Linked DNA regions of Homo sapiens: region 1 is linked to region 2. The links come from fine-mapping of genetic effects on gene expression. A gene starts in region 2. The other region holds a variant in brackets. All regions are shown on one strand. Distances are from middle to middle.

Region 1 (5,375 bases), 7.7 kb after region 2:
CTGTTTTAAAGCTTTCTCAACTCCATCTCAATAAAGAAATCTGCAGCTTTGTTGGATGAGAGGATCTAAAAAGTTCGTTCTTCCAATCGGTTGTAAATATAGACACTAATTTATAAACTGACACAGGAACACACAGCAAATTAGTAGAAAATCCGATTCCTGTTCCCTTTTCTCCTTGCATTGTTTCCTGCCAATGCTCACCATTTCTTTATCCTTTCCACTCTTCCTTGCTCCTCCTTCCCTTTAATTTTTCTCTGTTGTGCCTAAATAAGCTGTCCATGCATGGCACTCCATGGGCTCTGATAACAGACTCAACAAGACAATGACTTAAAGATGGAGTGACCAGCTGATCAGTCACACAAGTTGTTCCAGTGTAATTATTTTCACAGGTGTCTCAGTTTGGATGATAAATTATATGAACACTCTACTTACAGAACAAAGACCTTTATTTATGTCTCTCTTGCTTCAAAGTCCAAGGTGAGCATGCCTGCCTGGCAGCTCTGCCTCAATTCCTTTTAAATCATTCCTTTGTCATACTTCAGCACACTGCTGTCATCTGTATGGTTGAGCTGGACTGCTGCCATGTTGAGTCACCAGTGACTTTTTGATTCTTTAATTCCCAGTTTGACTGGCATTCCTCTGTGTGTGTGTATTTAGTTCTATGCAGTTTTATCACATGTGTAGGCTTGTGTAACCACTGCCACAGCCAAGATACAGAACAGCCAAGTTTGTTTTTGTTCACTGTCATCTCTCCAAAACCTAGTGCAATGCCTGGCAAAAAGACACTCAGTACATACTTGTTGATGGGGGAATGAATGAATGAATGGTGTGCTAATTGGGGTTTTAAGATGCAAAACCCAAGCAGTGTAAGTGAGGTACATGTGGCGGTCTAGAGGTAGGACCAGCAGGATAGCTGTGCCGTCTATCTCTGGGCCAGGCAACTGCTGCAGTCCTACCATGTCCCCAGCAGATGGGCAGGGGAAAGGCAGGGCCCAGTCTTTACAGGGGCAGGTCCTGGAGTTGCACACCTCACTTCCCCTCATATCCTACAGGCCAGAACTTAGGTGCAGGTACACACCAAGCTGCATAGGAGGCCGAGGTAGATGGTATTACTTGCCTGCAATTCTTCCTTCCCTCTTTTCTCTTACTAATGTTCACCAAAGTGGAGAGTACTTTTCCACAACTCATGCAGGGCTTTGGCCAATGGAATGTGGGCAGAAGCGAGTTTGTTAGTTCTGAGCTGAGGCCTTAGGAGGCCTCTTGTGTCTCTGCTCGTCCTCTGGCCCTGTTGCCACCCCAGGTGGTCACTGGTCCAGAGGATGAGAGACAAGTGAAGCAGCCCTGACTCGGCTCACAGCTTGAAGCAGAGCGGCCTCCACCAGCCTGCAAGAAAAATAAATGACTTTTTTGATAAGCCACTGAGAGTTTGAGGTTGCCTACCGTGAGCTCAGCCTTAACTGAGTGAGTTCTACTAGTAACGAAGGGGAGAATGAACATTTGTGGACTTCGAGCATTCTGCAGTATGAGAGGGGCCCCTCTCTGGATGGAGCAGGGAAGACCTGACCTGTAGGGACTCCTTAGGGGTCCAGAGCAAAGCCCAGGCGGCTTAGTTAGACGGCATGCTCTCCTGGGACTCTCATGGGCAGACAGACTGGAGATCAGCTGAACTGGGGCCAGCTGGAAACACCTCTGTCTGGAGACATCTTGGGGATAAAGGGAAGTTTGGGGTGGGAAGAATGATAATGGAAAGCTGCGTCCAAACAAATAAAACTGTCGCATTAACAAGTTGAAGAAGAGTTTTCCCAGTGAGTCGAGAACTGGTGCTAATAATAGAAGCCTCAAACAGCTGTGCATTTTGCCATATTAAATAGTTCATTTGTGTCTGTCTGTTGCCAGCACAGCTGTAGAGAATGATGCTGCTCCAGTTTGATCCAATACAGTATTTGGAATGCATGGAAAAGATCACTGATGCCTTTACCTGATGCCTTACCTCTGAAGGATATTTCTCCACATAATCGGCCCTCGGTTTTGTGCTGAATGCAGCTGTTGAAGGAAGCAGCTCTCTGTATTACTTGCTGATTATCCTGCCAACAGGAATTTGGGTGTGCGGAAATGGCATCAAATTCTTTCCACTGGGAAAGTGCTAGCAACAAACAAGAGGTTAAAAAGCTTTTGAAAGCACAGCAATTTGGGTGTGAATATCCATTCTGAGGTGGATGAATTAGTTCCTGATAAAGTATTGGCTGCTTATTTGAAACTGGTTGAGGAAAAGAAAACATGGCTTTAAAAAGCTCTTCAAATACAAATATATCCTCAATTTTATCTGCTTTTTACTGATATTTATCTGTCTGCCTTCTATTATGA[A/T]AATTTTCAACACTGAAAAATGTCAAAAGAAACCACAAATGCTTTTCATCTAGATTCAATGGTTGTTAACGTTTTACCATATTTGGTTTTTCTCCTCTCTCTGTCTCCCCACAAACACATGATACACACCATTTTTGAAAATAAGTTGTCAGTATGGCATCATGATCCGTAAGTGCTTCAATATGAATCTCCTAAGAATAAAGAAAATCTCCTGTATAACCGCAATACCACTATCATACCTAGGAAACTTAACAATGATTCTACAATCACAACTAATATCCAAGTCATTTTAAAATTTTTGCAATTGTACCTTAAATGTTTGTATGCAGTTTCCCCCGAGAGCTAATCAAGGCTTATGGATTCCATCTGGAGGCTAATCTGGAAAATCTCCCCCACCTTAACTTCTGTTTGGTTTTGATTTACGACATTGACTTGAGGAATCTGGGCCAGCTGTCTTAGAGAAGGTCACACATCCCTGGCTTGCCCGATTGTTTCCTGATGGTGTCCTTTAACTTTTACTTTTAAGCCCTTATAATGGAAGTTAGGTTTTAGGTTTGAATAAACTTTTTTCTTTTATTTATTTATTTATTTGGCTATAAAGAATACTTTACAGGTATTCCATGAGGAGGTCCTCACACTGGGTTTTTGCCAGCAGCGATGCTCAGGGGGATGACCTGTTGAGAAAGTAATTATTATATGTCCATGAGAAGGTACCTTTGCCTGGAACATCAACTGAGGCAAAGTTTACATGCTATTGCTTTGCAGGGTGGGGGTGCAATGCTGTGAAAGGGGAAAAATGAATTGAGGGGGAAACTACAAGATGGTCTGCTGCTGAATTAGCCACTGCTTGATAAACAGCACAGCTGGCCGCTTGGCTATGTGAGACATCTTTGGAGGTGCTGTGTAGCTCCGTTGCACCTCAGAGGAGTCCTACAAGGCAAAGCTCACGTGGTGGTAAAGCACTTGTACTTCAGGATTGTGTTGCTAGCTGCCTCGACACAGCCACTGGGAAAGCCAGTTCACCCGGGGCTCCTGCTGGACCTGGGCACAGGAGTTGCTGCAGCTCCTGCCCTGGCAGGTGGAATGACATGGCCTTGCCAAAGACAGCGGTGCCTGTCATTATAGGAGGTAAGGTGACAAGGTGGAAGCTGGAACTTTGCGGCCATCACTGGAGCTGCTTTACCTAGGATCAGGGTAGTGGGTCCCCAGGGGCAGGCAGGGTCAAATGGATGTGCTGGCTGGGTATAAATTGGATCCAACATTTTTTTCCTTTTAAATTACTGAATGATTTGTGGGGTGTACTTTGCCCCTGTAGGAATATTCTATTGCCCTGCCACGTTTATGTAATGGTTTCAGTATCCATTGATTATTCTTGCCTGTACCATTTATTACAGCAGGAGATGCAAGATATGAGGGTTAGTTATGTTCGTTACCACTAGGGTGTCATCGTACGCTTTTTCAGGAACACAACTAGGATGCTTTATTTACATATGTAATGAATATATATATAATAAAAATATATATATAATGAAATAGTATGAGTTTGTATTGCTATTGAAATTTAACATAAGTGTTTACATTATTTTTTTATATTTTATCTTTTTCCTCTTATACAGAAAAATTCCTAGTTCCTAATAATATTGATATATAGATATAGTCAGAGTAATATGTTCAAGTTACCCAAATTAACCTTTTTGTTTATTGTTGGTTTGGATCAATTTTATATAGAGTTGGTCATTTATTTCTCTTAAGGTACAATTTTAAGGCATTTTCCTTTATAAATTACTTTTATTTCTGAATATATAGAGAATAAATGGTTCAAAAATCAACATTGTGTAAAAACATTTGATCAGAGAAGTCTCACGCCTGTGCACATCCCCACCACCCTGCCCCAGTCTCCCTACAAGGATAGGTCATCAAGTTGATTCGTTTCTGGTTTTTCCTCTCCTGTGTTTCTTTTTGCAAACATGAGCAAGTACATATATACATTTTAATTTATCCTTCTTTCTTACACAAAATGTGGCGCACTATACACTCTGTTCTGTCTTGCTTCTCTCTCTTAATAATGTATGTTCAAGGCATCATTCCACATTGGTTCACAGACACCTTAAATACCAATTTTTTTTTTTTAGATGGAGTCTTGCTGTGTTGCCCAGGCTGGAGTGCAGTGGCACGATCTCGGTTCACTACAACCTCCACCTCCTGGGTTCAAGCAATTCTCCTGCCTCAGCTTCCCGAGTAGCTGGGATTACAGGTGCCCACCACCATGCCCGACTCATTTTTTGTATTTTTAGTAGAGACGGGGTTTCACCATGTTGGTCAGGCTGGTCTTGAACACCCACCTCAGGTGATCTGCCCGCCTCGGCCTCCCAAAGTGCTGGGATTACAGGTAAGAGCCACTGCGCCCGGCTTTCAATACCAAAATTTATCAATTGTTTATCATATGTCCAATGTATTAGGGTAAGCTAGACAATGCTCCCGTAGCACAAAAAAAAAAAAAAAACAAACCTCAAATTTCAGTGGCTTTACAAATAAAAGGCCGATCGCTTGCTCACATAAGGTCCTTTGTGGATTGGACAACCCTCCTCTATCTTGTAATTGCATCACCTACAACATGTATCTATATGGTGGCTTATTGGCTAGAGCCGTCACATGGACTCAAACTGGTGGCAAATGTAGTGTTATGTTCATGAAGAGGAAACTGAGAGGGGATTTGGTGGGTACTACTAGCACTATCTCAGCCACGCAAGGCTTTATATAGGCCTCACAACAGCTCTGTAAAGTAGATAATCTGATTGTTCCCATTTTACAGCTAAGCACATTGAGGCTCCAAGTATTCATATGCCTTTCAGAGTCATAGTGTTCCTGTATAACAGGGTTCATTTCAAATGTAGGTTTCTCTGCCTTTAAAGCCTGTACTTATACCCAATTCCGTGGTCAGTCATTATTGTCCACTAATAAAGAATGGCAAATCCATTTCATCCACGCATGAATGCAAATCTCCAACATAA
Region 2 (5,375 bases):
GGTGGCTTAAACAACACACATTTCTTTCTTACTGTTCTGAAGGCTGGCAAGTCCAAGATCAAGGTGCAGGCACATCTGGTGTCTGATGAGGGTCCACCCGCTTTCTGATTTGCTGAGGACAGTCTTCTTGTGGTATTCTCACATGGCAGAGAGCAAGCTCTTGTGTCTCTTTTTATAAGGCCACTGCGATGGTCTGAATGTGTCTCCCAACATTCATGTGTTAGAAACTTGGTCCCCACCAGCTATATGGAGGCTGAGGTGGGAGGATCGCTTGAGCCCAGGAGTTTGAGGCTGCAGTGATCTATGATCATGCCACTATACTCCAGCCTAGGCAACAGAACAAGGCCCCATCAATCAGTCAGTCAATACATAAATAAGTCTTTCCATCTATCCCTAATGCAACAGCTGTGAGAGAACAAACATCTGTTCTATATAAATTACCCAGTCTCGGGTATTCTATTATAGCAGCACAAAATGGACTAAGACAGCCACTAATCCCACTCATGAGGGCCCTACCATCATGGCCTAATTAGTTACTTCCCAAAGTTCCCACTTCCTGTTACCATCACAAAGGGGTTAGGATCTCAGCATAGAAACTTTGGGGGCAGACGAGCATTCAGTCCATAACATGGAGTGTCTTAGCTTGGGTTGCTATAACAAATACCATGCCAGCTGGGCGCAGTGGCTCACGCCTGTAATCCCAGCACTTTGGGAGGCCGAGGCGGGCGGATCATGAGGTCAGGAGATCGAGACCATCCTGGCTAACACGGTGAAACCCCATCTCTATTAAAAATACAAAACTTAGCCAGGTGTGGTGGCGCATACCTGTAATCCCAGCTACTCAGGAGGCTGAGGCAGGAGAATCGCTTGAACCCGGGAGGCAGAGGTTGCAGTGAGCCGAGATCGTGCCACTGCGCTCCAGCCTGGGCAATAGAGCGAGACTCCATCTCAAAAAAAAAAAAAAAATACCGTGTCATAGAGTGGTGGAGAAATTTATTTCTCAGTTCTGGGGGTTAGAAGTCTGAGATCGTGGTGCCAGCATGGTCACGTTATGGTGAGGGTCATCTTACAAGTTGCAGATGGCTGCCCTCTTACTGTATCCTCATATGGCAGAAAATCAGCAAGCTAGCTCTCTGTTCTCTTTTTTTTTTTTTTTTTTTGAGACAGAGTTTCACCGTATCGCCCAGGCTGGAGTGCAGTGGCGCAGTCTCAGCTCACTGAAAGCTCTGCCTCCCAGGTTTACACCATTCTCCTGCCTCAGCCTCCTGAGTAGCTGGGACTACAGGCACCCGCTGCCACACCTGGTTAATTTTTTGTATTTTAGTGGAGATGGGGTTTCACCGTGTTAGCCAGGATGGTCTCGATCTCTTGACCTCGTGATCCGCCCACCTCAGCCTCCCAAAGTGCTGGGATTACAGGTGTGAGCCATCTCTGTTCTCTTAGGCAGTCATTCCATTCATGAGGGCTCCACTCTCATGACCTAATTACCTCCCAAAGGCCCCACCTCCAAATAGAGAAATAGATTTCAACATTAATTTTGGGGTGACAGTCCATTCGTAACGGAATGAACCAGGAGACTGCTGACCAGAACATGGAAAGTGCAGCCTTGTAAACAGTCCGTGTGCTCAAGCCTGGCTGACTGTCAGACACAACAACCAAACCCTCACCTTGACCCCCACCCCCAGCCACACTGGAACCTGAACTGAGAGGCCACCCTTTCCCTGCAGGACCAGCTCCTAGAACAGCGGTTCTCAAACTTGAGCAAGTGTCAGAATCACCTGAAGGGCTTTGTTAAAACACAGGCTGCTGGGCCCCAGAGTTTCTGATGCAGGAAGTCTGGGTGGCTGAGAATTTGCATGGTTACAAGTTCCTGGGTGATGCAGATTCTGTGTGTCTGGAGGTAACATTTTGAGAACTGCTGTTTCAGAAGTTCTCCACATTAAAGTCTACCAGTCCTGACTGGTACCTAAGGGGTCATGAGGTAGTCAGTGCACAAGATAGAAAGTGAAAACACTGTCTTAGAATTTAAAACAATACTTCCTAACACCAATAGGTAGCTTTTGATAAAGGAATTATCAAGCATGGCTGTATTCATTTCTTATTGCTGCTGTAACAGATTACTACAATTTGGTGGCTTAAAACAATGTAAATTTATTATCCTAGAGTTTTGGAAATCAGAAATGGAAGCCCAGGCGCAGTGGCTCATGCCTGTAATCTCAGAACTTTGGGAGACCAAGGCAGGAGGACTGCTGGGGCACAGGAGTTTCAGACCAGCCTGGGCAACATAGTGAAACCCCATCTCTACAAAAAATGCAAAAATTAGCCAGGCATGCTGGTGCACCCCTGTAGTCCCGGCTACCTGGGAGGCTGAGGTGGAAGGTTCACTTGAGTCCAGGAAGGTTGAGGCTGCAGTGAGCCATGATTACGCCACTGCACTCCAGCCTGGGTGACAGAACAGACTGTCTCAAAGAAAAAAAGAAATTAGAAGTGAATCTCACTGGGCTAAAATCAAGGAGCCAGCAAGAGTTGTGTTTTTTGTTTTTTGTTTTGAGATGGAGTCTCGCTCTTGTCACCCAGGCTGGAGTGCAATGGTGCGATCTCAGCTCACTGCAACGTCTGCCTCCCAGGTTCAAGCGATTCTGGGGAGGGGAGGAGGAGGGAAGCAAGGAGAGAGGAACGCAGGGAGCAGAGCCTGACCTGGTCACAGGGGTCTGGGAAAGACAGAGGCTTTGTTAGAGCCGGCAGCTGAGGGCCGAGGCCGAGCAGGGGTTAGGCCAGCACAGGACGAAAAGGAAGAAAGTTCCAGGTGGAGTCTGGTGGAGAAAGACCGACCTGGAAGGCACCAGCATGTGCACGTGGCAACTGAGGTCGAGGACGTGCCTGAGAGAGAGGAGGAAGGTGCCCTGCGGACCGGGTAGGGTGCGGAGGTCGGGAATGGAGAACGGTCGTTGGGCAGGTCCGGGTACCCGTAGCCAGAACCACCCGGGTGTGCGCAGCTCGGCCAGGCCCCGCCTCCCGGCGTCCCCGCCCCCTGCTGGGCCTCTCTCCGCAGCCGCGAGACCCGCGCTTGGCGCATAGGCCGGTTCTAATTTACAAGAACACCGCGGCCTGAGGCCGGAGAGTCCCTTCAACCCGGGAGGCGGCGGCTGCAGGGAGCCGAGACGGCGCCATTGCCCTCCAGCCTGGGCAAAAAGAGCGAAACTCCGTCTCAAAAAAAAAAAAACATGGCCGAAACCAGGAAGCTGCGCGATGGCGCCACGGCCCCTCTTCTCCCGGCCTGTGTCCGGAAGGTTTCCCTCCGAGGCGCCCCGGCTCCCGCAAGCGGAGGAGAGGGCGGGACGTGCCGGGGCCGGAGCTCAGAGGCCCTGGGGCCGCTCTGCTCTCCCGCCATCGCAAGGGCGGCGCTGACCTGAGGCCTCCCCGCAAAGGTCCCCGAGGCGGCGGCGGCGGCGGGCTGTGAGAACCGCAGAAGAACGCTGGGCGCGCAGCGACCCGTCCACCCCCGCGAGGAGAGACTTCCACAGAGGCAGCGTTTCCACAGCCCAAAGCCACGTTTCTAGGGTGATGCAGCCCCAGTAAGTTCCTGGCGGGGAAGCTCACGGCTGTCAAAAGAACTCTTCGCTCCAGCCGGCGCACGAAGGGGAGGAGGGCAGGAGGCTGCCGCCCGCACAGGTCATCTGATCACGTCGCCCGCCCTAGTCTGCTTTTGTGAATCTCCACTTTGTTCAACCCCCACCCGCCGTCTCTCCCTCCCTGCGCCTTCCCTCTAACCTTAAAGACCCAGCTACCTCTACGCAAATGGTAGCTACCTCTGCGCAGGTGGAAGTTGAGTTCGGTTCACGCGGGACCCTCTTCCCTGTGGCAAGCTGCTGAAGGAGACCTGCTGTTACTGCTTTAGCTGCTGTTCTGCTTAATCTCAGACAGCTGGAAGGTAGTATTCCGCCCTCGCCCAGCCACCCGAGTAAATGAGAATGATGACTGACTGAGACCCTGATGGTGGTGGCTTAGGCTTAATCTCAGACAGCTGGAAGGTAGTATTCCGCCCTCACCCAGCCACCCGAGTAAATGAGAATGATGACTGACTGAGACCCTGATGGTGGTGGCTTAGGCAAGATGAACGTCTGAAATGGAGGCCCAGGGCTGCCACGATGGCTCTGTAGTCATCAGGGAGGGAGCTCCTTTTATCTTGTTACCTACTCCCCTCTTGTGCCCCTTTCTTCCCTTGATCTAAGAAGGTTGCTCCGGATCTCGCCATCTGGCCTGCGTTCAATCAGCAGAAGCTTCCTGGAGGAGCAGGAGGAGGCACTGTGCTCGCATCACATACCAGTGGCCAGAAGTTGGCTTCAGGGAAGCTCAGGAAATAGGATGCGAGAAGCCATGAGACCTCCCCAAACTCTGCAGTAACAGAGTCAACAAGACAATGGCTTAAAGATGGAGAGACCAGTTGATCGGTCACACAAGCTGTTCCACGATAATTCTTGTGTCAGAAGGGGAGGCTGACTACCAGGACCACTGGCCCCACTTCCAGCCCCTCCATTCTGAGTACACTTCAGAGGGCTCTGGCAGGGTGAGGGGGTCTTGGTGGTGCCACAGAGAGTAAAGGTCTAGCACACCCATTGTGGAGATATTTCATGGGGACAACCCAGTGACTTCACTTGAAGTAAAGTGGGATTTTCCAACCTTGAGATTCTTATTTTCTTTGGTATGCGTGTGGAAGAAGTATGAAGGTGGGGGTTGGGAGGGAGAGCAAATGAGCTGTGTGTATGAGGAGCTGGGGCCTGGCTCTTGACAATATCACCCACCCCCACCCCAGGCTTTCCTTGGGGCAGAAAGACTATGGCCGGGGCTTTCAGTGTCGGCTCCGAGGTATAGAGGTATAACCAGTGCTTTTGGCTAAGTCACGTCACTGATGAGCTTCTCTTTCCACCTTGGCAAACCAATTCTTCTGTAAAATGGTCTTCAAAGTTTCTTTTTTAAAGCAGAGAAACTTATTTTTCAGATAAAAATTTAGATAGAACTATCGGGGGAACCCGATAGGGGCCAGATATCGGGGGAACCCACCCCCAATATTTCAACATAGGTTCTTTCTATTTTCCATAAATGTTGGCCGGCTGAGAAATAAAGAGTACAAAGAGCGGAATTTTACAGCTGGGCCACCGGGGGTGACATCACATATTGGTAGGACCGTGATGCTCACCTGAGCCGTAAAACCAGCAGGTTTTTATTAAGGATTTCAAAAGGGGAGGGAGTGTACGAACAGGGAGTAGGAACAAAGATCATATGCTTCAAAGGGCAAAAGGCAGAACAAAGATCACATGCTTCTGAGGAAACAGGACAAAGGGCAAAAGGCAGAACAAAGATCACATGCCTCTGAG

What was found. PIP is the estimated chance that this variant, and not a neighbour inherited with it, causes the effect.
Region 1: its variant is the best candidate, but not a certain one, in a credible set for the expression of HEIH in whole blood (TOPMed, PIP 0.55).

Annotation. Positions count from the first base shown.
Region 1 is chr5:180,821,551-180,826,925 of GRCh38, reverse strand. It overlaps a transcript of ZFP62 not described here. Among named protein-coding and RNA genes, the nearest start is that of LINC00847, 6.7 kb to the left of the region's middle. RefSeq lists a silencer at 1,963-2,257. The variant A/T (reference allele first, on the strand shown) is at 2,365.
Region 2 is chr5:180,829,264-180,834,638 of GRCh38, reverse strand. It overlaps HEIH (hepatocellular carcinoma up-regulated EZH2-associated long non-coding RNA), which reads left to right and starts at 3,021. Exons shown (of 1, transcript NR_045680.1): 1 at 3,021-4,685. LINC00847 (long intergenic non-protein coding RNA 847) reads right to left here and starts at 3,682. Exons shown (of 3, transcript NR_045679.1): 1 at 3,410-3,682; 2 at 1,779-1,966; 3 at 1-327. It also overlaps a transcript of ZFP62 not described here. RefSeq lists silencers at 2,307-2,476, 2,917-3,046, 3,407-3,456.